4 separate regions of the Homo sapiens genome follow, and regions 2, 3 and 4 are each linked to region 1. The links come from fine-mapping of genetic effects on gene expression. A gene starts in region 1. Each other region holds a variant in brackets. All regions are shown on one strand. Distances are between the middles of the regions. Region 1 holds the start of FBXO25 (F-box protein 25). Region 2 overlaps FBXO25 (F-box protein 25). Region 3 overlaps FBXO25 (F-box protein 25). Region 4 has its middle 40 kb from the start of FAM87A.

Evidence for each region. PIP is the estimated chance that this variant, and not a neighbour inherited with it, causes the effect.
Region 2: its variant is fine-mapped to the expression of FBXO25 in cerebellar hemisphere (GTEx, PIP above 0.99).
Region 3: its variant is fine-mapped to the expression of FBXO25 in skeletal muscle (GTEx, PIP 0.98).
Region 4: its variant is fine-mapped to the expression of FBXO25 in monocytes (TOPMed, PIP 0.91).

Annotation. Positions count from the first base shown.
Region 1 is chr8:402,539-410,716 of GRCh38, reverse strand. It overlaps FBXO25 (F-box protein 25), which reads right to left and starts at 3,759. Exons shown (of 10, transcript NM_183420.2): 1 at 3,651-3,759. RefSeq lists a silencer at 3,627-4,036 and an enhancer at 6,138-6,197.
Region 2 is chr8:471,598-479,775 of GRCh38, reverse strand. It overlaps FBXO25 (F-box protein 25), which reads right to left. Exons shown (of 10, transcript NM_183420.2): 10 at 1,809-8,178. Among named protein-coding and RNA genes, the nearest start is that of FBXO25, 69 kb to the right of the region's middle. RefSeq lists enhancers at 1-227, 228-729. The variant G/T (reference allele first, on the strand shown) is at 5,310.
Region 3 is chr8:465,948-471,310 of GRCh38, reverse strand. FBXO25 (F-box protein 25) reads right to left here. Exons shown (of 10, transcript NM_183420.2): 10 at 1-2,596. The coding sequence ends at 2,507. Among named protein-coding and RNA genes, the nearest start is that of FBXO25, 62 kb to the right of the region's middle. The variant T/AGT (reference allele first, on the strand shown) is at 2,256.
Region 4 is chr8:338,765-346,942 of GRCh38, reverse strand. No RefSeq gene overlaps it. Among named protein-coding and RNA genes, the nearest start is that of FAM87A, 40 kb to the left of the region's middle. The variant C/A (reference allele first, on the strand shown) is at 4,391.

The DNA of each region.
Region 1 (8,178 bases):
ACAACTACTGAACATCCTAAAATGCAAAACTCAATGCCCATGTTCAGTCGACCTAAAGTTATCTAAAACTGTCTCTAATAGCATACAGCTGATTTTATGATTTTCAAGAACATTCCCACCAAAGGCAGCAAAGACCATGAAGTAGCAGATGACTGAAGTGGCACCTTGAGTCTCATAAAACACATTCAACAGAAAATGGCTGCTAGGAACATCTCTGATAATTATCAAATTATCTCTCAATATCAACTTGAAACTGTGGATTCAGAAATCTATATTAAAAAAAAAAATCAAGTGGATAATCCTGAAAAATATTGCTAACAGACCAAATACAGGATTACTTCAACGACAAACATTTGAGCACCAACTACATGTTATTATGCTAGATGTTCCTGCCCTCAAAAGTGTGCAATTTAGCTAAGGAACTAAAAAAGAACAATAGCAAAACACACACAAATTCCATACAAGTGTAATATAATAAAGTGTGTTTACATGTAGATATGTGAGTGTGCATGTATACATACATACAGATATGTCCACAATCTTGTAACTTGTGGTAAAGAGAGAATAAAGTTAATTTGAGCAGAAAGCAAATCAGCTGGGAAAGCTCTGACTAGAAACTAGGACTCGATCTTCGCCCTGAAGCATGGTTAGATCTTAAATGAATGGAGAGGCAAGGCAAAAAATATCAATCATGGGAATGGTGGGTGAATAAGTATAAAGGGCAAAATGTGTGCCACAGTTTGAGAAAAATAAGCAGAAAAGATGGGATAAAATGGAGAAAGTTTATCAGAGGACTGGTACATAAGCGACTAGAAGCCAGGTCATAGAAGAATATCAAAGGTGTTTAGACTTTATTCTGTCAGTAATTAAACGTTTTTCAGCAACAGATCAGCGTGAGCAGTGTTGTTTTGAGAATAATAATTTTCTAGGGCTTGTAGGATAGATCAAATGAAAAACATGGAGACAGAAAAAAACAACTAGGCAACAAATATCTTGCCAACAGAACCTTATCTGGATGACTGTCCTATGTACATCCCGGTATCCTCAGCTGAAAAAATATTTTAAAACTTGATGACACACAAATATTGTACTTACCTATTTAGACACTATGCCCACTCATCATTTAATACACTTATCTTCTAGTTTCACAATCTTTATAACATTTACATAAAGAGCCTGCCTACTGTTTCCATTAATATAACCAATTCTTTTACAACTACCTAAACTCTACAGATAATTCATTTTGGCAACTCAGTGAAAAATGAATAGTTTGGTCTGAATTTCTCAGCTGATAAGTTTGATTTTTTAAGGGTTGAAAGGAGTGAAATGCAGCCATGGAAATAAAAAAATAGTCCATGCCCAAAGGCTTATTTTCAACACAGAGGAAAAGATTTGTTTCTCTGAAGATGTGTGTGCTTCACAGATTTGTTATGGTATGCTCTATGGATCACAATGAAGTTTTTCTTAAAGCATAATCTATACAGCTCATGAACTAAAGCACAAACTCTGGATGCAGATTAAAAACAACACCACCAACAAAAAAAGACAAGTTGCAATTTAAAACGTCTGGGGTCTGGATCTCAAGTTTTCAAAAATACTCCCAAACTGAGGCTTCTGAGTTTGCAAATCAGAAAACAATGCTACTAAAGTTTTATAGAATGATGATGACCCACGGCTTTCAATGGGAATGTATTTGTTCAGCTAAAAAATGTGAATTGCTAGAGCTTTATACGCTTATTTTAATTAAAATTACCTTTATTTTGGGAATTTACAAACACAAAAAAACTAGAAATTACTCCTGAAAATTATTAAACTTTTAAGAGCAAGCACTCAAAGGGTGTAGCTTGTATAATTTGCAAATTTTAAGCACATTTTATGCCAACTTATTTCAGACAGCCTACAATGATTAACTATTTAAAATCTTCCCTTAATTTCTATTTCATGTGGTAGGACACGTGGGTGGGATACTTCAGTAGAAAAGGACTTCATGAAGTTCATTTGCTGGTGGAAACTCTTGGCATGAGAGACTCAGAACAAAAAAAAATGTCTTTCCTTCAACAAGCATATTTTTTCTTAACAATAATAATGGCAAACATTTATTAGAGCTTACCATAGGCTACGCATTACTCTAAACAATCTACATATGTTGTCTCATTTAATCCTCACACTGTCCTCCAAGGTAGAAAACATTATTCTTGTTTTACAAGTTTCATTATGTATTTTAAAGATGAAGACACTGAGGCAAAGAGTTCAGTGGAGCTGGGATTCAAAATGATGGAGTCTCACTCCAGGATCCATGCTCCTAACCACTATGTTTATAATAGCAGTTCCTGAAAACCCTATTAAAACAGATGCCATTAAATTATAAGCTTTTTAACTTTTTTTTTTTTTACCGTCTATTACAGATCACTAATATGATTTCAAGTAATGATGAACCTAAATACAAAGGCACTAAAACAAGGAATACAACACAGGAAAGAAAACTCCAATCCATCTTAAAAGACCACATGTGTTTCCCTATTTGTTTTGCTTATAAGTGTGGACAAATTTGATCCAGAAAGGACATTTTAAAAAATGGCAAACTGAGGGCTGAGAGTCAGAAATAAGTTGTACTCTAAGGACTTACAGATAATCACAGATTCCTCATGGGAAAGGTAAACACGTAAAGACGAGGAGAAAACAGAATATGAAAGAGTAAACGTCTTTTCTGATTAGGGCCGGATGGTAAGGATTTGGAGGCAGCAAGAGACAGCTTCATAAGGGAAGAAATGGTTCTCTAGATTCTTTAGTCTTCAAAATGAGTTTGAATAGGCCCAAGGACAGAGGTGGAATCTAATTGAGAAAAAGGTCAAATTGAGCTTACTGTGAGGGGAAGGATGCAAAATTAGTGTCTGCTGCAAGAAAAATAAGCATGGAAAGAAATTAAGGGAGGAGACAGAGACAGAGCCAGAGCCACAGACCAGGAGTAGGGAAAAAAAGGTAAGCAGCAGACGGGGCAGAGTGGCCTGGAGGAATGAGGGGTCACACCTAGCAGGTGCCCACCGGCGAAGAGGCAAGGACCGAGCCCGGAGGGCAAACGCCGGCAGGAGTCGTCCCCGAAACACCTTGCCCAGCGAGGCGGACACAAGCTCGGGCCTGCAAGACGGCCCAGGAGGGTGGGGGCGGGAAGGGGTCGCAGAAGGTGGGCAGGGGAAGCGGCTGAGGACGCGCGGTGCACCTGTGGGCGGCCCCCGTGCCCACCCGACTCGCCCGCAGCTCCCTGAATGAACCCTCCACACCCGCCGGCCGCCCCCAGACCCCACCTGACGCGCCCGCGGCCCATCGTCCCTACCTGACGCGCCCGCGGACCCAGACTTCAGCAGACGCGCACGCGGCAATCCCGTCCCCACCTGACGCGCCCGCGACAACCCCGTCCCCACCTGACGCGCCCGAGGCCCCCGGTCCCCACCTGACCCTCCCACAGGCCCCGTCCCCACCTGACGCGCTCGCGACCCCATGTCTTCCCCTGACGCGCCCGCCGCCCCCGGTCTTCACCTGACTCGCCCGTGGCCCGTCGTCCCCACCTGACGCGCCCGCGAGCCCCAATCTTCACCTAACGCGCCTGCGGCGCCAAGTCTTCACCTGACGCGCCCGCTGCACCCCGCACCTACCTAGCGCGCCTGCGGCCCCCAGTCTTCACCTGACGCGCCCGCGTCCCCCAGTGCCCAACGGGCGCGCCGGCCACCTGGGCCCGCACCTGACGGCGACCAGGCGGTTATTGCCGGAAGTGGGCCGCCGCCTCCCGGCGCGCCTCAGGGAAGCCCCGCCCCTGGCCATGCTGATTGGCCGGCGCGGATCCGCGTGGCAATGTTGCTGCCTGGTCCTGTCGCCCGCAGCGTGCGCCTGCGTAGTAGGCACTGCCCCTCCGTCCGCGCGCGTCCAGAGTGCCGGGCGTGGAGGCGTGGGGGCGTGGGGGCGTGGGGTGGGGCTCGGGTGCGCAGGGACGGGCGCGGTCAGTGCCTGAGATCCCTGCGATCGCTGGGAGATGACGGTGAAGACCTGAGATTTAGGCCTGCGCGGCGGGTGACGACGCCGGTCCGGGTCTTCACGGGAGGACGCTGGCCGGGGCCTTCAGGTGTTCTCGTGGCCTGAGGACGCGCGTCCCTGAGAATGTGCGTGCCCGCGCCGCGCGGGTCCCACAGGAGCCTGGGCAGCCCCGCCGCCGCATTTCCACCCTGCGGCCGTATTTCCACCCGCTGGGCGCCAAGCCCGGGATGACTGCACTCTAGGGCATCACTGCGCGCTCACACTCAGCATTCGGGCACAAGCACGTTCTCTTTATAAACAGTTTCGAATCTTGTCGAATCTTTCTAGAAGGTTGAAATGCCCTGGAGGAGCAGCGTGAATAGTTTTTTCCAATTAGGAAAAAAGAATGTGGGGCGGCTGGAGGGAGAGAGGCAGGCCGAGAAGGCCAGGTGGGTCCAGGAGCCGCAGCCCCCGTGCCTCAGTTTCCGCCTAGAAACATGGAGGTGGCGGTGCACGCTACAGGATTTCCATAAGAACAAATGAGTTAGCGTGTGCAAAACATTTAAAACAGTGTCTGGTGTGTAGCAAGCAAATATGAGTATTAGTCTTTTCCTTGTTAAAATGTGTGCATCTACATGTGGTGCACATTACAGGAAGTGTATAGTATGGATTCATATTTTGGAAAAGTAATTTTAGAAGTTATTTCTGAAGTGCTTATTATAATAGTGTTTCTTGACCACATGCTTTTAAATAATGTGAAGGCAATGAAGTAGGCAATATTGCTTGCACATCCCCAATTTAAACACCTGTCTGTCCCTCCTTCCCTCTCTCCGTTCTTTTCTTCCTTTCCCTCTCTCTTTATTCCTTCCTTCATTCCCTTCAAGGTTGCGGATTATTCTATTATATAAATGTATCAATTTATTAGAATAGTTTCTATGATGTCTATGATAGGTTTTAAATTGTTTGCAATAGTTTGCCATTATAAATAATGCCCAGTAGCGCTGTGGTCTGATTTAACTTGTGAAGGTATATTTCCAAATAAATCGCTATGATTGGATTGTTGTGTAAAGCAAAAAGTGTCTGAGGCAGATCACAACTGATTTAGAGGTTTATTCTGCCAAAATCGTGGACGTGTCTGGGGAAAAAGAAACACAGGTTACAGTAGGATTTTTGGCCTGTACTTTTTTCCAAATATTTAAGGGAAAAGCGCCGGTAGGAGGGGAAAGAGGGGAGAGTAGGCTATGAGGCAAGTGGTCACATTTTTGTGAGGCTCTGATTAGAGTACAGCAAATCTACATTTCACATGTGAAAAGAAAGGTATGGGGGAGGGTTATGCATCTGTCTCATACTCAGTAGATCTACATTTCACATAAGATAAAGTAAGCTTTTGGGAACAAAAAGAAGACTGCGTGTGTGTGTGTGTGTGTGTGTGTGTGTGTGTGTGTGTGTTTTGCCAATATTAACTTTTCCCTTTGGCATAGTAAGTTTGGAGGCCTGAAATTTTATTTTTCTTTCACTGATGTGTCAAGGTTAACTGCATATGGAATACTAGTAGAAATTGCCAAGCCAAGACCCCACCACCACAATGGGGGACATAGTAATATTAAATTTAGCCCAATTGGCTAGCATCCTCACAATTCCTAGTGAAAGAATTCCTGGATGGATGGTAAAGAGGTAAACAAACTGCAGAAACTCACAAAGCAACAAAAGAAGTCCACAGAGTAAGAGCAGGAATTCAGAGAGTAACCACAGAGAGATCCACAGAGTAACAGCAGAACCCACAGTGTAACATCAGAGCCCACAGAGTAACAGCAGGACCCACAGAATAATAGCAGGCACCCACAGAGTAACATCAGAACCCATAGTGTGATAGCAGAGCCCAAAGAGTAACAGCAGAGCCCACAAAGTAACGTCAGAACCCACAGAGTAACAGCAGAGCCCACAGAGTAACGTCAGAACCCACAGAGTAACAGCAGAGCCCACAGAGTAATGTCAAGAGCATATTCATGGTCTTGGGTCTTCTTTGTGTGTCCTTTCTACCAGGACTGGGCTTAGCTCTGTGCTTGTGAAGAGTAACCCACTCAGTGCCCTCGGGAATTTCACCACTGGAGGAGGAGAAAAACCCCAGAGGGGCGGGGAGAAATGCTTTTCAAAACACATGGTGCAGCTGGAGATTGTGGAGCAGTTGCCCGGGCAGAAGGCTCGGCAGGGGGAATTAGTGACCAGTAGGGAGGTGCCTCCCTAACCACAGAGATTTTTTGGCAATCAACTTGTTGAAAAATCATGTTTTAAAATTTTCTTTAAGTCAAACCCTACAGAACCTAAGGAGCTGGCTCCTCCTGGCAGGAAGCTGGGAGAGTGCTGGTCACAGTGCACCAGGTGCCCCCTGCCTCACAGGGGCTTAGGGTGGTGGTGAGCACAGGGGTCCCACGCTTCTCCAATGCACACCACACAGTCGTCTCCTCTGACCTTCCCAAATGCTGCACGGACAAGTGTATGTAGTCCCTAACTCTCAGGACAATGTAGACTTGGTATACCTTCGGGCACGGGGAATCCCATCCTTCTTCCTGTTCCTGCCGCTCTGAAGCATGTGGTGTATGTTTAATGGGGATTTTACACAATATGGGAAGACCACTTCTGCTTTCTATGCAGTGATAATACTGCAATAAGAAAAAATGAACCAAGCCACCAAAACAAAACAGTACCACCTGATGCAGAACTAGGAGGGAAACACAGCAGTGTCTCAGAGCTAATGCAGCAGCCAGGCACCACGACAGTGTCATGGGTACAAGGAGGAGGTGTCTCAGAGCTAATGCTCTGTGCTGACAGCAGCCAGGCACCACGACGGTGCCATGGGTACAAGGAGGAGGTGCCTGGTTTTCAGGAGCTTGCCATCTGAACAGACCCAAGGTGGCAAACACACAGTGAGAAAATGGGGCCATGAGTGCTGTAATTACCTACAGAATGTTTAGGGGGACTGGGAGCAAAAACAATCCCCTCTTTCAGAAACCAATCCTGGAAGGTGCTGGAAGGTTGTACTAGCTGTGAAAATCAGACGCCAGCAGGCAGCTATCGTGAGACCAAACGCAGTACTCAGCTCAGGCAAGCCGGTTTGCTTATTTATGTCAAATTTCTCAGTCTTGGGTCTCCTTATCTTTTAAATAAGGAGTTAGAATAGAATTTGAGGGCTGTTCACTCAGGCATCCATGGTGGCTGCAGCATAAGGAGTGTGTGGTGTCAGGATGGGAAGGGCAACATGGAGACTGCATGGCCATTGACGTCTGAAAGTCTCTGGTTGCCAAAAAGAATCTATGTACAACAGCATTCATCCTGACAGCAGCCAACAGGCAGCCTAGACCTGGCATGCCACAGCTCCTCTAGGCTCTGAACCCCTCTCAGCTGAGCCTGGTAGATGCCAGCTGACCGGCTGCAGCCCCTGAGTAGAGGTTGGCTGTCCTAGCAATAGCGTAGGGCGGGGGCACAGCAGACATGGGACCATCATCTAGATTCCTAGACGTGCAACTTCAAGTGAGTACATAACCTCCTGAGCCCCAGCTCTCACCTGAAAGCTGAGTTAGGCGCACACACAGGAAGGCAGAGATGGGTCCAGGGCTGGGCTTCTGGTTCCTCTACTCAAACTCTGCTGCTCCCTGCCCCTCTGCCATCCCTGCAAGCTCCTCACTGACCATGCTTGTCTCAAGCGTTCTCTCTTCCTCCTGACCTCCTGGGGACTTCATAAACCCAGTATCTTTTTAAAATAATCTATTATTTTAGGCTCAGGGGTACATGTACAGGTTTGCTATACAGGTAAACTCATGTCTGGGGGTTTGTTGTACAGATTATTTCATCACCCTACATGTACAGGTTTGCTATACAGGTAAACTCATGTCTGGGGGTTTGTTGTACAGATTATTTCATCACCCTACATGTACAGGTTTGCTATACAGGTAAACTCATGTCTGGGGGTTTGTTGTACAGATTATTTCATCACCCTACATGTACAGGTTTGCTATACAGGTAAACTCATGTCTGGGGGTTTGTTGTACAGATTATTTCATCACCCTACATGTACAGGTTTGCTATACAGGTAAACTCATGTCTGGGGGGTTTGTTGTACAGATTATTTCATCACCCTACATGTACAGGTTTGCTATACAGGTAAACTCATGTCTG
Region 2 (8,178 bases), 69 kb before region 1:
CAGTGCCCAACTCTGTGTAGACATGGGGGCCCCAGAGAGGTGCCTGTCTGGGTTATGTACAGAAAAACCGGTTTGCTAAAGAAGCTGGTGTTTTGAAATGTGACACTTAAGTTTTTAGAGGGAAAATGTAGTAATTGGGGAGCGACCGCACCTCCGGCTATCCCCACGCATGGCTATCCTTTCAGCCACACGTGTGGCACAGTGTGTGCGCCGTCTGCTGGAAGAGCAGGGTTTGGGGAAGAGGTTAACAGATAAGCAACATGAATGGCGCTGAGCCCGTTGGAGGGGCACGGGCAGTCCTGAGTGAATGTTACATAGGAGAGCCAGGGTTGATGTGGCTGCAGCCTCGTCTGCTCTCACACCAGCAGGTGAGTGTTAAAGGCAGGCCTCCTGCTGGTGGGCTTGTTTTCTCCTGGCATGTGTGCCTTGGGAACATGCTGCTTTCCTTTGTGCCTTTCTCTGATTCAAAGACTGGTTTCATCACCACTGAAGGGCATGTCACCTTTATGAGGTATTCCATTCTCTAAGTTTTGGTTACTGTATCTCCAAGACCTGCTGTTTCATGGCAAATCTCCATCCACTGGGTTTCTGATTATGTTTGAAGCTTATCATCATCATGCTGGCATCTTTGCCTTTTGGTGACCAACTGTTATCTTACCAGTGAGTGGTTTCATCTTTTTCAAGTGTGTCTGACAGTAACAGTGACCGCCCCCCACCCCGGTACTATAAGGCTGTCAGTTCGGGTGGATACTTAAATATTTATGTATTTTTTGAGACAGGGTCTCACACTGTTGCCCAGTCAGGAGTACAGTGGCACAAACACAGCTCACTGCAGCCTCCACCTCTGCCTGCTGAGTAACTGGGACTACACGTGTGCCACCATGCCTGGCTTTTTTCCTTTTTCTTTTTTTTTTTTTTTTTTTTTTTGTAGCGACGAGGTCTTGCTATATTGCCTAGGCTGGTCTTGAACTCCTGGGCTCGCTCAAGCAATCTCTGGCCTCGACCTCCCCAAGTGCTGGGATTACAGGTGTGAGGGACTGCACCTGGCCGCCATTTAAGTATTTAGAAATTAATGTCCCAGCATGGTTTTTCAGAGTTGCAAAGATATTTTCACTTACTTACTGATAAAGGGGTAGAGTTTTAGCTTTTGATAAAGGGGTAGAGTTTTAGCTTTCATAAGAAGTGAGGCTATTGATCCCTTTGACGTTACTTCTGTTTAGAGTTTTAGGAAAATATTTTTAAAAATTTAGATAATTTATTTTCAAGAAAGCTGAACAAATCTGGATGGTGTGGGGGTGATGGGAAATACCATTTGAGTTTTGAGAAGTGATTTTTTTTTTTATTCTTTGGAAACTAGTGTTTACAGAAATCTCTTCTCCCTAGAGACTTTAAAACGTGCTATTAAGACAGAAGGATATGGTAAGAATTTTTATTCTGTAAGAATCTTCAAAGCTCAGCATGAAGATACACATCTTTCCCATGGGAATCCAGGCTAGAGAAATGCAAGAAGGCGGTTCCCTCTAGAGTCTCCTTTCCTGGGAGATGCAGCTCCAGATGGGTGGGTTTCTGGGCAGGAGGGGAGAGGAGGGTGGTGTTTATTCAACTGTTTATTTGGGATCATGTTATGCGTCTTCAAAAAGCGATATAAGAGAAAATATTGGAAAGATATTTCAAAATAAGAATTACCTTGAAGTAATTCCCATAATTAATGGGTAACATTTTTGTGTATGTATTTTGGCTTTTTATTGTAAAAATAATGTATTTTCATTGTAGAAAGTTTTTTTTAAAAAGTAACGAGTACAAAAAAGTAGTGTTATATAACTTTTAATGGAAAATGTCAAATAGATACAAAAGTATAAATCAGGTTGGCAAGTGAAATACAGGCCAAAATTGGGCCCACCAGCTGTTTTTGCACAGCCCAAATGTTAAGAATGATTTTTACATTTTTAAATAGTGAAAAGATGTAAAAGGGTAATATCTAATGACATAAGAAAAGTATGTGAAATTCAGATTTTATTGTCCAAAAAGTTTGGAACACAGCCACATGCACTGGTGCGTGGCCCCCTGGTGGCGGCTTCATGCCACTACTGCCAAGTGGCAAGAGAGCCCCATGGCTGGAAAAGCCAACAATCTTTACCATCTGCTCCAAGCCCTGCTTCACTCCCCTGTGTGTACCTATCCTTGCAGCCTCAAATTCCCGGCCAATCTTGTTTCATTTATAGTTACTCCCAGCCCCACGGATTCAAAGGAAATCCCAGACATCCTATAATTTCATCTTCATGTTGAAATTTAAAAAGTTTGAAAATTCACCAAGATGTAATATATATGCACCAAACATCAGAGCCCAAAATATATGAAACAAACATTGACAGAATCAAAGGAAGAAATGGATAGTTCTACAGTAAGAGTAGGAGACTGCAGTAGCCCACTTTCAGTAACGGATAGGACAACCAGACAGAAGATCAGTCGCAAGACAGAACTTGAACAGCATCATACCAGCTGGACCTAACAGACACAACAGCAGTACACACGTTTTTCTCAAGTGCAAATGGACCTTTCTCTAGGATAGACAGTATGTTAGATGACTAAACAAGTCAACAAATTTCAAAAGACTGAGGAAATAAAATATCTTTTCTGGCCACAGTGGGATGAAACTAGAAATCAGTAACAGACAAAAAACTGAAAAGTACACAATTATGTGAAAATTAAACAACGCTCTCAACCAGCAGATTAATGGGGAACTCACAAGGGAAATTAGAAAATATCTTGTGGTAAATGAAAAATGTAATATACAAAAAAACAGGTACAGTCAAAGCAGTGGTAGGAGGGAAATTTGTAACTGTAAATACACCTATTAAACAAATTAAGATCTCAAGTCAACCCTAAATTTACATCTGAAAGAACTAGAAAAAGAAGAGCAATCAACCCAAAGCCAGCAGAATGGAGATGATTATAATAATAATAAAGATTAGAGCAGAGACAAAATAGAGAACAGAAAAGCAATAGAGAAAAATAAATGAAACCAAGAGTTTGTTGATAGCTAAGAGTGACTAAGAAAAACAACTAAAAACCAGGAGGAGACATTACAACTGATTTTACAGAAATAAAAAGGATTAAGAGTACTATGAGCAATTACATATCAAAGAATTGGATAACCTAGATGAACTGGACAAATTCTTAGAAACACACAGCCTATCAAGATTGAATCATGAAGAAATGGAAAATCTGAACAGACCTATGCTAGTCAAGAGCATGAAGTAGTAAAGAAAAGCCTCCCAAGAAAGAAAAGCCCAGGGTCATATGGGAATTCTGGCAAACATCTGAAGAATTAAATCAATTCTCCTCAAACTCTTCCAAAAAACTGAAGAGGAAAGGACACTTCCAAATGCATTCTATGAGGCCATCATTATTCTGATACCAAAACCAGACAAAGACACTATAAGAAAAAAACACCACACATCAGTATTCCTGATCAAGATTTTTTTAAATCAATATTCAACAAAATACTGGCCAACAGGATTCAGTGGGACATTGAAAGGATTACACATCATGGCCAAGTAAGATTTACAGCTGGTATGCAAAGATGTTTCAACATGCTCAAGTCAATAAATGTAATGTCTATTACATTAATAGAATGAAGGAAAAAAATGTGATCTCCATTGATGGAGAAAAAGCATTTGAGACAATGTCATGCCCTTTCATGATAAAAACTCAACAATTGGGAATAGAAGGAAACAACCTAAAATAGAGGCCATATGAACATCCCACTGTAAACATCATATTCAATAAGACTGAAAGGACTTTAAGATCAAGAACAACACAGAAATACCCTGTCTCACCACTTCTGTTTAACACAGTACTGGAGTCTTAGAGCAGTTAGGCAAGAAAAAGAAATAAAAGGCATCCAGACTGGAAAGGAAGAAGCAAAATTATCTGTTTGCAGATGACATGATCTTATATGTAGAAAATCCTAGTGTCCATACATATACAAAAAAAAATTTCAGTAACACTGCAGTTTACAAAATCAACACAACAAATCCATGATATTTCTATACAATAACAAGCAATCTCAAAAGGAAATTTAAGAAAATTCCATTATAATAGTAACAAAAAAACTGAAATATTTAGGAATAAACTTAAGGAAGCAAAAGACTTGTACTTGAAAACCATAAAACACTGCTTAAAGAAAGTAAGGTCAACACAAATAAATAGAAAGCAATCCCGTGTTTATGGATTGGATACCTTAAGATGTCCATAGTCCAAAGCAATCTATAGATTTCATGCAATCTCTATCAGAATATCCCAGTGGCTTTTTTTTTTCCATCCTGAAACTCATATGGAATCTCAAGAGACCTCACACAGCCAAAATCATCTTGAAAGGGAACCAAGTAGGAGGTCTCTCACTTCCTTATTTCATAACTTACGACAAAGCTACAATAATCAAAATGGTGTTGTATTGAAACAAAGACAGTCATGTAGACCAATGGAACAGAATAGCAAATCCCCAAATAAACCCTTGCACATATGGGTCAAATGATTTTTGATGGTGCCAAGACCATTCAAGGGAGAAAGGACAGTCTTTTCAACAAATGGTGCTAGACAAGTGGACATCCACATGAAGCTAGATCTACCTCACACCATATATAAAAATTAAAATAGATCAAAGGCCTAAACTAAGAGCTAAAACTAAAACATTTAGGAGAAACATAAGGGAAACTTTTAACAACATTGGATTTGGCAGTGATTTCTTAGATATGACACCAGAGGCACACACAGGTAACTAAAAGAAAGAAACAACTTCTGTACATCAAAGAACAAAACAGAGTGAAAGGCAATCCACGGAATGGGACAAAGTATTTTAAAATGATATATCTGAAAAGGGTGAGGCAGTGATTTCTTAGATATGACACCAGAGGCACACACAGGTAACTAAAAGAAAGAAACAACTTCTGTACATCAAAGAACAAAACAGAGTGAAAGGCAATCCACGGAATGGGACAAAGTATTTTAAAATGATATATCTGAAAAGGGTGAATACCCAGAACATATAAAAACACACACCTGATTGAAAAATGGACAAAGAGCCCAAATAGACATTTCTCCAAAGACGACATATAAACGGCCAACAAACAGATACTCAGCATCACCAGTCATTACGGAAATGCAAATCAAAATCTCAGCAGGATACCACTTCACACTCATTAGGATGGCAATTATTAAAAACAGGTGTTGGCAAGGATGTGGCAAAACTGGAACCTTCAGTGGGAATGTAAAATGGTGCAGCCACCGTGTAAAACACTTATGGCAGT[G/T]CCCTAAGAAATTAAACATAGGATTGCCATATGATTGAAAGCAGAGACTCAGATATTTGCACACCCATGTTTACGGCAGCAATATTCACAATAGCTAAAAGGTGGAAGCAACTCAAGTGTCCTCAACAGATGAGTACACAAACAAAATGTGGTCCATCCATAGAATCAGCCTTAAAAAGAAATCTTGACATATCCTACAACTTGAATAAACCTTGAGGACATTACGCTAAGTGAAATAAGCCAGTCACAAAAGGACAAATCCCTTCTGGTTCCACTCATACGAGGTCCCTACAGAAGTCAAATTAAAAGAGACAAAGGAGAACAGAGGCTGCCAGGGGCTGGTGGATGGGGAATAGGGAGTTGGTGCTTAATGGGTACAGAGCTTCAGTTTTACAAGATGACAAAAGTTCATCTTGTAAAGTTGAACTTGTGGATACGTGGTAGAGAAGGTTGCACAGTATGAATGTATTTAATGCCACTAAATTGCACACTTAAAATAGGTAAGATGGTAAATTTCACGTGTATTTTAACATGTCAAATTCTTTTAAATGACATTAGAATTGACTACATAGGTTAGATAATAAAAACCAACTTGCCTTCATCTGTGCAAGTTTCTCAAATGATTATCAAATAAAAATGAAATTTCCATGCAAAAACGAGACAGTTGAGGTGTCTCTTCTATTTGACACAGATGTCCTCATTTTTTTTGCTCTCCCTTACTTAGGAAGAACAAGAGCATTTCAAAGAAACCGCATCCTCAGTGAACGCTGGTTATGGTCCAAGAGCCAGCCCAGGACCCCTGTGGCACCAGCAGTGCCTTCTCCTGCTTGCCCCTCCAGCTGGTGCTCTGGGCATCTCTGTTCTTTGTCACTCTGTGGATTTGAGCCAGTGAGGATTGGAAGGAAGAGGACCAAGTACAAAAAGGACAACTAGGAGGGTTAACAGCCTCTCCTAGGCATTCACGTGAAAAGCAATGGCAGATCCACGTGGCCTGTATTGGGGCAGGTGCCCTGGGGAGCAACTCCTTCATCTCACAGATGCTGAGGGCGAGAATGGCAGCAGCCATACACTGCCTGAGTTTAGAGAGGACTGCTGGGGGTGCATGTGCAGGTGCCACGTTACCACCTAGAACACACTGTCTCATGCTGTGAGCCAGGGCTTTTTAGGCACACAATGATGCAGTTCCTGCTGAAATTCTGAAGGCAGAGGCTACACCTGAGCAGCTCCTACCGGCTCAGTGGCATTTAGCCCATGGGACGCGGGGGGACACTGCTTTCCAAAGTTGAGGGTCTGCCTCCTCTATGCAGAAACAACAGGAAGGGATAAGGAGTGGGGCTTGAGTGAAGACAGAAGCAGCAATTCTGTTGAGATACATATGAGTGCAGGGTGGATGCTGGTGTCAGCCATAGAGGGCCCCAATGGCTGGTGCTGGTTAGTCATGTATGCAGGTCCTTCTTTTTCCTCCTACCTGTTGCTAATCCCTTGGCTTTGCCATTGGGTAGCATTTGATAGGGACTAAAGGGAGGTGAGTGGTGTCCATCACGTGCACACATCATAATGAAGAGAGGGAGATTAAAAAGTCGAGTTTCATAAGGCAGGCTTGCTTCTGACTTTTCTCAGAGGGCAGCACCCCTTCCTTTTGATAATTCTGAAGATAAGCAGAACAGACTAGGTTTCACAGTCCACTTATCTACTAAGTTAGGCCTTCGCAATGAAAAGAAAAACCATTAAAAGGCATCTCTGGAGAAAATGGTCTTATCCTCTTAAAGGATAATTGAAGCTTCTCAGTGACTTCAAATCTTATATGGAGTTCTCTCAAACATTTAAAGAAGAATTAACAAGAAACCACCACAAACACTTCCAAAACACAGAAGAGGGAACACTTTCTAAGCTTATCCTATGAGATGGACACCAAAACCCAAGAGATCACAAGGTGGTGGGTGGCAGGTGGGGTGGGGGTGGGGGTCTTGGAACCAATCCCCCGTGGATACAGAGGGCTGGCTGTTCCAGCACACCAAATCTAACAGCTATGTATAAAAGGTATCATAAACCATGACTTAGTGGGCTTTGACCCAAGAATGCAAGGTTGGTTCAAGATATAGAAATCAGTCAATGTAATAACAGCACATGATCTTATGAAGGCCAAAAACTACATTATCTTAAGAGATGCAGAAAAAGCATTTGACAAAATCCACACCCTTTCACGATAAAAACAAACTAGGAATAGAAGGGAACCTCCCCAACCTAATAGAGGGTATGTATGGAAAACCCAGGGTTAACATCATAGTTAATGGTGAGACTGAAAGCTTTCCCCTAAGATGAGGAACAAGACAAGGATGTTCACTCTCGCACTGCTATTCAACATTGTACTAGAGATTCTAGCCAGCGAAACGGGGTAAGAAAGAATAAAGGACATCTAGACTGAGAGGAAGAAGTGAAACTGTCTATTCATAGATGACATGATTTTGTACACAGCATCAGGAATCTACAAAGGTGTTAAAAGAGCTGATAAATCTTATATGACAGTTTGGTTCTAAAAGCAGCACTTAAGGCAAAAAACTGTTCACAGATGGTTAAATTTTTTCCATAAAGTAGACACAGTTTGCTGTGTACAGCCCTGTACAGTACGCACACACAGTGCATACAGAGAGCCTGTACGTCATGCAGTAAACCACGACAGCTACAAATCGGTCTGCTCCTGAGAGGCTACTGCATGGCTTTCCAATTTGTGTGTATTCATAAATTAGGTGAGGAATGTGACTTTTTGACTCAAAATAGGCAAAAGGAAGTTGTAACTGGGTGTCAAGAGACACCAGCCCTGAGTGAGCAGCGCAGACTGAGAACAGGTCCGAGAATGACTGGAGATTCT
Region 3 (5,363 bases), 62 kb before region 1:
ATTCTGTCCTTATACCCTCCATTAACCTTTCAATCTCTCCCCAGCAATGTAAGCCATCCCTGCTTACCTGCCCAGCTCCCACAGCTTGTCCCTCGAACGCACCTGCAGGAGGCTGTGACCCATGCAGTGGCAATGCGGCTAGCTGTGTCCATGGCCTGTGGAAATATGCCAGCCCAGCAGAACAGCTGGAATCCTACACTATTAATATGGTTATGTTTTCCAAGCAAGTACTGCTCAATTTATACAAGTTAAATGCACATCTGTGATTTGATAGCACAGCTGAGAACTGTTATAACATCTAACAATTAAATGACAGTAACAGTATATGACAAATTAGGGGAAAGAACCACAACTTCAAAAGGATAGTTTCCTTTTAAGAAGAAACTAACATGAAAAAAGACTGACATCCACCCCAAAAAACAGGCAAATACCACATTAAGTAATTTACCAAAAACAAGAAAAGCAAATGGATAATAAATATATGGAAATATTCAAGCTCACAATTTATCATACATCAAATTCTTCACTTATTAAAACAGCACCAACAGAAAAAGAAATACCTGTGCTTCAGGGATAATGGAAACTCAATGTACTTACTCCCTTTCCTAGATTAGAACAATTTCTTTTCTCAGCTGGACGTGGTGGCTCATGCCTGTAATCCCAGCACTTTGGGAAGCTGAGGCAGGTGGATTGCTTGAGCTCAAACTCCTGAGACCAGCCTGGGCAACATGGTGAAACCCCATCTCTACTAAAAATACAAAAAAACAGCTGAGCATGGTGGTATATGCCTGTGGTCCTGACTGCTTGGGAGGCTGAGGTGGGAGGATCACTGGAGGGTGAGGTGGGAGGATCACTTGAGCCTGGGGGACAGAGGTTGCAGTAAGCCGACATCATACCCCTGCACTCCAGCCTGGGTGACAGAGCAAGACCCTGTCTCAAAAACAAACTCCAAAAAAATTTTTTTTCATGAACAATCTAGAAATATATTTAAAAGCCTTAAAATATGTTTGACTCATGATGTTGGCTGTACTACCAGTGGTTGTAAGGAGACGGCCACATTGTTGTGTGACGATGCTTATCATAGTTATTGATGCTAACGGCGAGACACTCAGGAACCCCAATATGTTGTGATGAAAAAGCCTGTTCCATCTGGGTGATTCTGTGGAGCTAATAAAAGCCAAGTTTCCAAATAACATTTAGGATATGGTTCTACGTTTCTAAAAAAAGGCAGGGTCGGGACGGGGGGCGTTGTGAAGTAACAGTGGTATACGGGACATTTATGGTCTTATGAAAAACTAACATATATTCGCAGAGGCCCCAGGTATTTGCATCGCCTCAGGAGAAACTATAATTTGACAAATAAATGCATTCTTGGCCATTTGTGTCAGTTCACAGAAGTGGGGCTGAAAAATCCAGAATCTTTTTTTAGTCCTATTTATAACGCCATAAAAGTATACTTTTATTATTATGCTTAAAGGAAAAAGTAGAAATGATTTGCTTGGGCTCCTTGACCCTATTCAAAAATGGAAATATACAACAATACGTTTCTATCCTATGCCTGCTGAGGGGATTTTTCATACTCTTTTCAGCATGCACAATAATCTTTGGGTGGTGGGACTGATTTTCTAATTTTCTAAAATGGACATGCGTTATTTTAAAAACGAAGCAATCTTTTAAGGATTTAAGTATCAAAATCACTAACATTTCTCAGTAGGATGCAAAACTGATGAAGTTTAAATCAATAGATAAACATGATTTATTACTTTGTCTATTAAAGTAGTTTCAACACAATTGAAGTTTAGACTGCACTGGGCTGTTCCCATCACAGTCCAGGATTATGCACAGACCAGCCCCCAACCCCAGCAGGGGTGCCCTGCCAGAACCTGTGCTGGATGCCTAGGAGCACAGAGACCACTGCCCGTTGTTGGGCTGCGTGTGCACACTTCATACCCCGATCCATAATCCCTAAGACAAGAATGGCTGTCATTGCCCTGGGTTCACTTTCTATTCAAAGAGGACTCATTTGGGCACAGCCAATGTAGTAGTTAAAATGCATTTTGAGAAAAAATAAATATTCTGTACAATGTATTTACAAGGATCAAATGTTTTGTAACCCACCCCCAATTAGTTTCCCAATTGGGAAACTATAATTTGATAATTAAGAAGCATATTATTGGCCGTTAGTGTCACGTCAACAAAGAATGTGGAGCTGACCACCTAAAGTATTTTTGAACTATATATATAGAGAGAGAGAG[T/AGT]ACGCAAAATTTCACATTTTAATATGCTTAGAAGGAGTTTTTAAAGAAGTAGAAATGATTTCCTTGGCCTCTGACTTTCAGTGATGAAAATGCAACCATGCAGTCCCCCCTTTGCAGAAGGGCAGTTCTTCCCAGGCTTTCTGGAAGCAGGGGCTTCCGAGGAGTCTCCACCCACCTCACAGAACACTCACTATGAGCCCTGCACAGACAGCAGGATTCACAATCTCCAATAGGGATGGCAGGGGCAGCCCTTAAAACTTGAAGAGGTCGATGAAGTGCTGCGGAGACACAGGCGTGAAGCAGCTGTCAGGGTCGGCCGCCGTGCAGGGGTGTCCTGAGTCCTGTGGGGAGGTGGGAGATGGTTAGGAGGGGGCCCCACCACCAGCCACACTCTAGTGATGGTGCTTGAGGGGTCGTCAGCTGCTTGTTGATGTGGACCCTGGGCCCCACCTCAGAGGTACATGGGAGATAACTTGGATGAGAATGACCAACACAAGGGCAGCCGCAGCCGATTCTACATAGAGGTTTCCCATGGAACTCCTGCTCAGGTAGGGCAGGAGACGGTGGCCCCAGGTCTGCCCTCCAGTGCCGAATCTGGTACTGAGTCAGAGGAGCCAGCTGCTGACACCACCCTGCACTGCCCCGGAATCTACAAGGCCACAGAAGAAACCACTGGGGACTTTCTGTCCTCTGGTCCCAGCCATTCCTTTGTCCTGTCCTCCTGTTCCTGGCTCACTTTGTTACACAGGGTTCCCTCCACCCGCCATTCATCCCTGAATCAGCTTGGGCTCCCTGCATAGGACAGGAGAGGGGGACACACGGCCTCAGCCCCCAAGGCTCCTGCTTGCTCCAAGGGAGCTGGCCATGCTCACATACCTAAGGATCCAGAATTATATTTAATATGAGAAGTGACGACAGAAAAATTAATTTTGTGGATGAAGACTGGCAGACTCTTAGGAGGAACGCAGGTAAACGGGACCAGAGGCTCTGGGGTCAGTGCTGGATCTCTCCATGGCATGCCCTGGCAGTGCTGCCAAACCAGGTGCTGTGTGGTGAAGTGTTTATGCGCACATCTAGCAGCCTCCCTCAGCACTCAGGTGTTGTTCTGCAAAATATTTCATCAACACTCTCGTCCTTGCTGAGGTGTTTGATCAAAGTGGCCACTCAGCCCTGCTCAGGGTCCTGAGAAAGCTCAAGTCAGCGAGAGCTGGAATCGAGCCGGGCAGTGGCCAAGATGACGTGCATGAGATGCAGCACGATGCAACGTTTTCATCCCGAACACAGGATGTGTGGCAAGACAGGGAAGTACCTTGAATAGTAAAGCAAGATGGTAGTCCTTCGAGATCATGAAGAAAGAATCAGGAAGGAATGCAGTGAAGGGAGGGAAAAAAAGGAAAAGTTAAGATTAGAAAGAGCCAGAGTGTATCTAAGCATTCAGGTTTGATTCATATTATTTACGAAAATAACTAAAAACATCAGGTAACTAAATTTGGACAGTACAAGGTTATTAAAAGCAAACAAGTTCTCATCAGATAACCCAAAAATTCCCAAACTACTTGAAGACAGTCTTAAGACAACATATCTCTACCTTTAAGTCTTTCAAATTTGGCAACTAATGAGGCTGCAGTGCTAAATAACCTTTAAAATTATTCACTGAAGAAGAGATGCTATTTCCATGTGCAGTTTATATTAAAACTTTATAACAGATTTTTTTGGGGAAAGTTCTTTGTTCTTCATTTAACATCCGAAGGCTCTGCTCTGTGCTCAGTAATGCACATTAAGTCAATTCCACACATGCCCTTAAGCCAGCCTCCACCTCTGACACTTGTTCCTCCAGGCCAGTGAATGCCACTTTCCAACACAGACCCAAGCCTCAGCAGCTGCCCTCCTGTGCTGTTCTCCCCCGCTGGTTCAGGATGCTACTAGCAAAGCGGTTCCCCTGCAAGACCAGGACCACCAGACCATGGACACCTCATCTTGGATTCTGGCTCCAACTTTGCTCCTGATGTCCACACAGGCCTGTGGGGTGAACGTCAGATGGCCAGCCCTCTATTCTGGCAACTGATACACCAAGAAAAAACAGGACATAAAAAGGCCAAATGCTCATCATGGCTTCCCTGACCCAGCCAACAAGTCTACAGTTTTTAACTGAGGTTTTGTACAGCCGGGAGGTAACGCCACCCCTCTCAGTGGACCCTCGCAGGGCCATCGAAGTCAGTCTTTGGCTCCAGAGCTTAACTCAGCCCAGTTACTTACAGACTGTGTGGAAGGCTGACTAAGGCAGGTAGAAAAGTTAAAAAAGAACTCCAATATAGTAGAGCCACAACAGATGGGAAACCAGCTTGGGAGCAGATGAAGTGGCTCCACAGCACTGCTGACTGGAGAGCTCCAAGCTTATGTACTGTGGGAAGTGATAAATACCAGATGCAGACCTGAGACAGATGCACCATGGTGTCGGCTCATGACCAAGTCCCAGGGCCAGAATTTAGAGTCAACAACACCCAGTCTCATTTTCTTAACAGCTTTGATATTACTTTAGTTTCTCAGTCAACACAAACTACTGGGATGCTAAACAAACAAAGAACAAGCAGTGACCCTAACCCTAAGTGCCATTTTCTGAGCACCAGCTATGTGCCAGTTTCCAGGTGCAGGACTGCTGAACATCCACAGCTCCTCTGTGTGGTGGGTCATGGCGTCAAACCAAGACCCTAGGAGGGGCAGCAAGCTCAGGAGACCCCGGAGGCAGGTCCAGGTCTGCCTGACTCCAATCTGGGTTTGGCCCACCAGGCCACTCGCCTCTGGTTAGCCACACTGGGCAAACCCACGGCGGAGGAGATGGAAGACAGGGCAAGAAGTACCTGACATCTTGAGGGGTTAAATTAGGAGAGATGGCTCTTTTTGAATACTTCCAATGCATGGATTCAGAACTAAAAACGTGGACTGCCTTCTAGAATGATATTCAGTGGGAGAAGCTGTGATGGGACCACTCACTGTAGCTACAGTGAAGTGGACATCACAGCCTCCAAGGGCAAGACATGAACCTCCCAGAACTAAGAGATGGGCAGCTGTCCTTCCTAGGAGAGACTTGTTCTCAATTTCCATGATATG
Region 4 (8,178 bases), 64 kb after region 1:
CTGCCCTGGCTCAGCCCCCAGCCCCACAGAGCCTGGATCCACCCTCTTCCCAGCTCTGCGACTGCCTGTGGTGAGGGAGACCCACAGTTCCCTTCCAGGCGGTTCGGTTCTGTGAATTCCCTAAACAACTCCACGTCTTCCGTCTTCCGGGAGAGAGTGTGTTATCGTGCCCCTGGAATCCACGCACAGCTCATTTATCAGCTACTGCTGAAACCCTGTCCTGTGAGGCTCAAACCCAAGCTGCAGATGACCTGGTGGAATGTGAGCCTCGGCTGTGGGGTGATTTCACTTAATTTCTCCTTAAATTGAAAGATTTCACTATCACCCACCAGCAACGGGCAGCACCTAAAGTAGGTCATCCATGCGGAGGACACTGGTGATCAAGACAAACTTGATCTGGGATGTAAGATAAAGCTCCTTGCCGCTACCACTTTCTGTCTGGCACACTGAAGGAGGATAATTAGATTTGCAGAGATTTGACGACTTGATAGAAAATACCAGCCCCTGGTAGCTGACACAGGGAGAGGAGCAGTAGAATGTACGCGGGTCTTAGAGGGTCACTGACGTGCATGCAGCACGCTTGACAGGCAGCCGGGACACACAGACCTGCTCTGCGGCTGCCCTGGAATGACCCACGCTGGCCAGGAAGGCCACAGCTGTTCCTTCACACGTCAGCCCCACCTTGTACCCCTCAGCCCTTGGTCTCCCCTAGCTGTCCCAATTTGTAGGCAAAACCACATTTTTGGACTGACCTGTGGCCACTGAGATGATCGGAATTGTCATGAATGCCCCGTAGTGGGAGCAATGGCCTTCAGAGCAGGGAACTTTCTTGTATTGATTGTTGATGATCCCCCATAGTAGCCAGGGCTCTCAGAGAAGCAGAGCCAATGGGATGTGGAGGGATAAAGGGATGTATTGCAAGGGACTGGCTCACCTGACCATGGAGGGTGGGAGACCCCTTGATCTGGTGTCTGCAGCTGGAGCCCCTGGAGAGCCGGTGGGGTTGGCCCAGGGCCTGAGAACCAGAGAGCTGAGGATGGGAGAAGATGGGGGGTGGGGGAGGCCAGCTCAGCAGTCTGGCGGTCACCCAGCCCTCCTCCACCTCTGTGTTCTATTCAGGCCCTCAGCGGCTTGGATGGTGCCATCTGCACGGGGGAGGGTGGGTCTGCTCTCCTCCGTCCACAGGTTCCAGCGCTGAGCTATTCTGGAAACTCGGAGCCCCACCAAGTTGACTTGTAAAATTTACATCACCGCAAGCTTCACATAGACATATTTTTATTATCCTCTCTCTCTTGTTAGCCACCCCTGTTGAACTGTCCAGGAGATTTCCTCAACTGTATCCTCTAACCACTCCACTCTATTTTCGGCTGCTGTGGGTTTAATTTTTGTGGGTTTCTCCTACCATCTGACAAGCTACTGAGCATGACCCGCTGATCCCTCCCTCGGCAGCACTCACCCTTGTCCCTGGCTCCCCTTTCCGGGGCCCCACACCTCAGCATTGCTGGCGGATCACTGGGCCCCTTTCCCACTGTTGAGCAATGCTGAAGCGTCTTCCCCATTTCCATCACAGCCTCCAGACCCCATAAACCTGTGGGAGCAGCATGGGCTTGGGGTCAGGGTGCAGAGCCCCACATCTGGCCCTCGTTCCTGCATCTGAGGGATGCTGGGGCCCCCGGCTCTCCGCAGTGTGGTCTTGGAATTCCGAGCACATGGAAGTGTCTGGTTGGCAGAAAAGTGAGTCACTGACACCTGTAACGTCCACCTGGGTGAGGCAGGAAGGCTGAGCAGTCGGAACGGAATCAGAACCCTCAGCAGCAGCAACAGGGGCTGGGAAACACTGGGAAAAAGATCTCGCGAGGGAAAAGGATTTACACAATGATCCCCCAAATGGAAACGTCACACACAAATCAGTATTTTGTATATAGTTTATATTCGTTTCACTTAACAGACAATCATATAGCACTGACTCTGGACCAGGCAGAGTTCTAGCGTCTTCACAAATACTGAGTCATGTCATCATCATTTTACGAATAAGGAAACTGAGTCAGAGAGCAAGTCACTTGCCCTATCTCAGACGACCATGAGTGGCTGAGCTGGGGGAAGGCCAGTGGGTCTCAGACCCCTTTGCCCACATCAGACTAAGGGTCTGGACCTGCCAGGCAGGATGAGGATGCGGGGAGGAAGTGAATTCCCAGGAACCAGGGATAACAGAGCAGCCAGAGGCTGGGCAGAGAACGAGCAGGAGCTCTGGGGTCCTGTAGAATAGCTGGGTTTGAGTCTCAGCCCTGCCATTAAATTAGCTCTGTGACTTCAGGCCAGTTGCCTAACTTCTCTGGGCCTCACTTCTCTGCTGTGTGAAATGCCTGGGTATGCAAAATGGTCATTAGGAGATCCTGTCTATAATACTCCATTTTTTAAAAAAGAACATTTTGGCCTGTTTCACATGCTGCTGGGTTACTGTCCTTGGTGAGGCATTTCATGGAAGCTTCCCTAACCAGCACCTGCCAGGAGCTCCTAACCTTCCATTTCTGGATGCAGCTGGGCTACGAAAATCTTCTCATTAGTCTTTTTCCCAATTGTTTCAGCAAGAAAGTAAGGAAACTCTAGTCAGTGCCTGGGCATCATCTCTTACACCCAGCAATGTCCGTTTCCGTAGAAAGAACCGGCCGCCAAAATCCCGTGAGCCTCCCACCCCTTCTGGGCCTAGTGCTCCCACGTGCATTTCCCCGAGGAAATAATTGTCTGGCACTGGGCAGGCCCTACAGGGGACATGCTGCCATTTTCCGTACCTCATAGTCTGTGGCAGCTTCCACCTAAAAGACCCACGTTTTAATGTTTAATGAAAATTTCAAATATTAAAAAAGTTTTTTTCTGATTATAAAAGTATAATATGATCATTGTAGAAAGTTTGAAACACACAGCAAAGCAGTTTTAAAAAGTAAAACTTACCCATCTCTAGCAAACCCAGATATGACTGTAAATGTTTCTGTGACTCTTGGATAACTGCCTGACAGCGCTCGGGAAATTTCGGATCAACTTTTTCCTCCTCAGAATGTACAGTGGATGAAATGTTTGAATGTGGCTATTTTTCGGGGTGTCATAATAATTTTTTTAAACGTCACACTGGAAACAATGACGTTTGTTTTTCTTTTATTTCTTTTCTCATGACTAATGATCTTAAATATTATTCTACGCATTTATTGAAAATTTATATTTTTTTCTTTGTGAAATGCCAGTTTATGTCCTTGCTCATATTTTTTTTTATTTGGTCCTGAGATTATTCTTGGGAACAGCATGCCAAGGCCCGACATAAAGTTTCTCTCATCCTAACCAACATACAAACTCTTCCCAAGCAACAGTCTACACAGAGACCCGTTCTTCTCACATCCTGGCTCTCTCTCTCTCCCTCTGCGAGTCCTCCTCTTCTTTTGACACCACTCACATAAGCAGTTCACACTTGTGCCTGCTTCTCCATGAGGATTTCCACTCTCTAAGGAGGTAGAGGAGTGCAGAGATTTATTTGCTGGGGTCACATGCAGAGGGCGTCGGAGAAGGCAGCCAGGACAACGGCCAATGTCATTGTTCAGCCGTCATTGGGACTGACATTGGAGACAGCGTCTTGGGCTCTGGAAGGAAGGGAGCGTTGACAACTGTCATTATTTCTAGTCTCCCCAGGGCATGCAGAACATTACATGCACCTTGCTAATGGCCTGCAATGATAAGATATGTATCAGTGTGAATAATCTTGCTTAGTGAGAGTAATGGGCTGGGTGACGGGGTCTGTCTGTCTCATTTCTATTGGCATAAATAGATCTGGGCACTATGACTTCCACAGAGGAGTGGAATTACAGAGTCACTGAGGGCCTAACTTTAGTTTTGGAAAGAGCAGAACTCTGGAGACAAGGCTGAGCTCAGGAGTGTTGTGTATGTTTGTGTTTCTAGCTGTCATAGTCTGAATGCTGGGTCCCCCAAGTTTATCTGTTGAAATCCAAATCCCCGAGGTGCTGATACTAGGACCAGGGGCTTTGGGAGGTGATTACGCCCTGAGAATGGAGCCCCGATGAGTGGGATTGGAGGCCAAGGGAGCTTTTTGGCCTGTCCCCCTTAAGAAGTAAGAAGGTGTCTTCCGTGAACCAGGAAGCAATCCCCGCCCCCGCCCCCACCCACCCCTCACCAGACACCGAATCCCTCAGGGCTTTGATCTTGCACTTCCAGCCTCCAGAACTGTGAGAAATCAATGCATGCACAAGTCACCCAGGTTATGGCTGAATGTTACAGCAATGAATGGACTAAGACAGTGCCCATGTGATGCCTGACTTTACTGCAGACACCTGTACTCTCTCCTGCAGCGTCCTCACTGGCACCATCCCCCCAAGGTGGAGTGGAGGAA[C/A]GTTGTCACCATCTGGCACAGACATTGTCACTGTCATGGATGGGCAGTCGGCCACCAAAGTGTCTGGTGCCAGCAGTTGCACCCCTAAACTCCCCTGATGATGGGGCCGAGGGATGCATCGGGGGCAGTTCTACGGTTAACTAGGCTGGCAGTCTCGGCCCCTCGGCATCTTGGTGCCCATCTCCGTATGTGCTTTTATTTCTATGAGATAAATTATCAGGGGTCAGGTCACGGGTATGAAGGGTATGTCATTTATAATTTTAATATATCTTGCCACACTCTTTTCAAAAGATTGCAAAAATTTGTTTTTTCACAAGGAATGTTTGAGAACTTCCTTTTTCTTTCACGTCTTGCAGCTATATAGGTTACGACACTTCTTAATATTTCTCAACCTGATAGATAATATTTTAATTTGAGTTTTCCCTAAATTCCAGGTAGGATGAACATTTGTTCATATGTTTTATAGGATTATTAGTTGTGTGTTCCTTTCTTTAAATAACCTATGCTTATGCTTTACACATTTTTCTCTTGTTTCTTGACAATTTTGATTTTTGGTCATTTTAAGATATCTTTATATATGGCAGATATTAACCCATGGTGGTCATCAGAATTGCACATTTTCTTCCAAAACGCCAGTCCGTCAGTTGACTCCATTTGACGTGAGGCTTGCACTCTTTAAAAGTTTCACTGCTTTTACTGGAATCACAGTTTAGGATGACAGGGGCCCTTTGCGGATGTCTTGGATCCACCTCTGTCTTCATTGCAGCCGCGTGGCTGCTTCTCCCTGGATTCTTCTCCTTGGTCTGCAACTCGTGTGGCTCCACCCCAGCCTCCTCTCCACTTTCCAGACAGGTCTGAATCATGGGGAACATATTAAGCAATGTTCATTCTCCAATTAATATTAAGTGTCCACAGCTGTGGCCAGGTTCTGTGCAGTGTTGTGAGACCATGACGGAGACGGCCTCTGAGTCTGATGTGCAGTGTTGTGGGACCATGATGGAGGGGGCCTCTGAATGATGGAGATGGCCTCTGAGTCTGATGTGCAATATAGTGTTGTGAGACCATGGTGGAGATGGCCTCTGAGTCTGATGTGCAGTGTTGGGAGACCATGATAGAGACGGCCTCTGAATGACGGAGACGGCCTCTGAATGACGGAGACGGCCTCTGAGTCTGATGTGCAGTGTTGGGAGACCATGATAGAGACGGCCTCTGAGTCTGATGTGCAGTGTTGGGAGACCATGATAGAGACGGCCTCTGAGTCTGATGTGCAGTGTTGGGAGACCATGATAGAGATGGCCTCTGAGTCTGACGTGCAATATAGTGTTGTGAGACCATGGTGGAGATGGCCTCTGAGTCTGATGTGCAGTGTTGGGAGACCATGATAGAGACGGCCTCTGAGTCTGATGTGCAGTGTTGGGAGACCATGATAGAGATGGCCTCTGAGTCTGATGTGCAATATAGTGTTGTGAGACCATGGTGGAGATGGCCTCTGAGTCTGATGTGCAGTGTTGGGAGACCATGATAGAGACGGCCTCTGAGTCTGATGTGCAGTGTTGGGAGACCATGATAGAGACGGCCTCTGAGTCTGATGTGCAGTGTTGGGAGACCATGATAGAGATGGCCTCTGAGTCTGATGTGCAATATAGTGTTGTGAGACCATGGTGGAGACAGCCTCTGAGTCTGATGTGCAGTGTCGTGAGACCATGACGGAGACGGCCTCTGAGTCTGAGTCTCCGGGGGTAGAGAGGACTCATCGTGGTGCACACATGGTGAGGGGCGGAAACCCTCACAGAACACAGCCCAGGGGAAGAGCTGCACAGTTTTCCAGTAAATGTCTGATGAGCATTTTGCCCATTGATCTGTCAATGGACACTTAGATTGTGTCCGTATCCTGGCCACTGTGATGAGTGCTGCAGTCAACACCGGGCTGTGGACATCTCTTCTGAGGACAGATTTCCTTCCTTCTGGTCCACACACAACGGAGCACTCTTCCGCCTTAGAATAAGGAAGTCCTGCCATTTGCACAAACATAGATGAGCCTGGAGGACATGATGCTGAGTGGAATAAGCCAGACACAGAGAGACAAACTCCGCCTGATCTCACGCAGATGGACGCCCCAAGTCTACAAAAGCTCAGTTATAAGATAAATAAATCCTGGAGACCTGATGTGTGTAGCGTGGTGTTGATAGCTAATAACACTGTATTATATACTTGAAATTTGCTGAGAGAGATCTTAAATGTCCTCACTTTCTCCCATCCGCAGCACACACACAGGTAACTACATGGGAAGATGGGTGTTAATTTGCTTGACTGTGGCAAACGGTTCACTACATGTATGTAAATCAAAACATCACCTTGTACACCTTAAATCTATACAATGCTTATTAAGGAATAAAAAATTTAATTAAAAAATTAAAAATAAATAAATGTTTAATGAACTAATATCAAATCTACATCCTTTAGGGGGAAATTGGAGTGCAGCACAGACCATGTGCGTGGAGCAGTTGCACAGACGCCTTCAGAGCCCAGCCTGAGTCCTGTTGGCTCCATGAGGCCAGGAGCCTGAAGCCACAAACAGCATTTGCTGCACAACTGTTAACTTTATATCCACATGAGAGTCATCTGGACAACCACAGATAAAAGTGTTAGGCTGGGCATGGCAGCTCACATCTGTAATCCCAGCACTTTGAGAGGCTGAGGTGAGCAGACTGATTGAGCCCAGGAGTTCAAGCCCAGCCTCGACAACATAACGAGACCCTGTCTCTATAAAAAATACAAAAATTAGCTGAGTGTGGTGGTGTACATCTGTGGTCTCAGCTACTTGGAAGGCTGAGGTAGGAGTTTCACCTGAGCCCAGGAGGCCGAGGCTGCAGTGAGCCAAGATCGTGCCACTGCATTCCAGCCTGGGTGACAGAGCAAGACCCTGTCCAAAAAAAAAAAAAAAAAAATGAGAGAACTGCCCTGTCCAAAGCATGTGATCAGCACTGTTATTGTTTGAGATAATTTAGAAATGTGACACATTTAATGGAGGTGAATATCAGTGTGAAAAATGAGACAAAGAAGAGAGGGGCCTGGACTTGCAGGGCTGGAGAATGTTGCAGATCCAATCATGAAGCTGGCAGGAGAGTCGGGCGAAGAGTGGTTTAATTAAATCACTGTCTCTCCGTTTAAGAACCTGCATGGAGCCAGGCCACTGTCAGCACTGAACCCTCAGGAGCGAGGTTCGCCGGGAAGGCCACTCTCACTCAGCTTCCTTCCTGTGCCCAGATTCCCTCGAGCTGTGTGTCGGGAACGTCAGTAATGCGTGACATCAAGGTGGGGAGTTTGGCCCAGGGACCCCTGACCGCTGTGCTGACTCTCCATCTCTCTGTCTGAAACAAGGCCTGGAATGGGCTGGGCTTTGAACCAAAGTGTTTTTTAAAAAAGACCTTGAAGACCCCAAATTGTGGAGTCATAAGGAGTGAACGTCCTTTTTGAAGAATACTTGGTCCCACTCTCTGAAAACCCATTAAAACCCAAGGTCATACCAAGGAAGGTGGCAATAGGGAAAGCAAACCCTCTTATTTTGGTTGTCATGGTTTATATGATTACATCTAGTCAAAAAGCACAAAGACAACTCCACAGGAAAACATTCTGTAGATTTCAGAAAAGGATGACCTGCAGGCCCTCGGGAGGGCCCTCTCAGCAGCTCTGCAGCCTCCCCTACTCCCTTCCATCGCTGGGCAGCCCAGCCCCTTCCCAGGTCTCTCCCAAAGCCTCTGCTTCCCTTCCAGGGGAGGGGCCCGCTC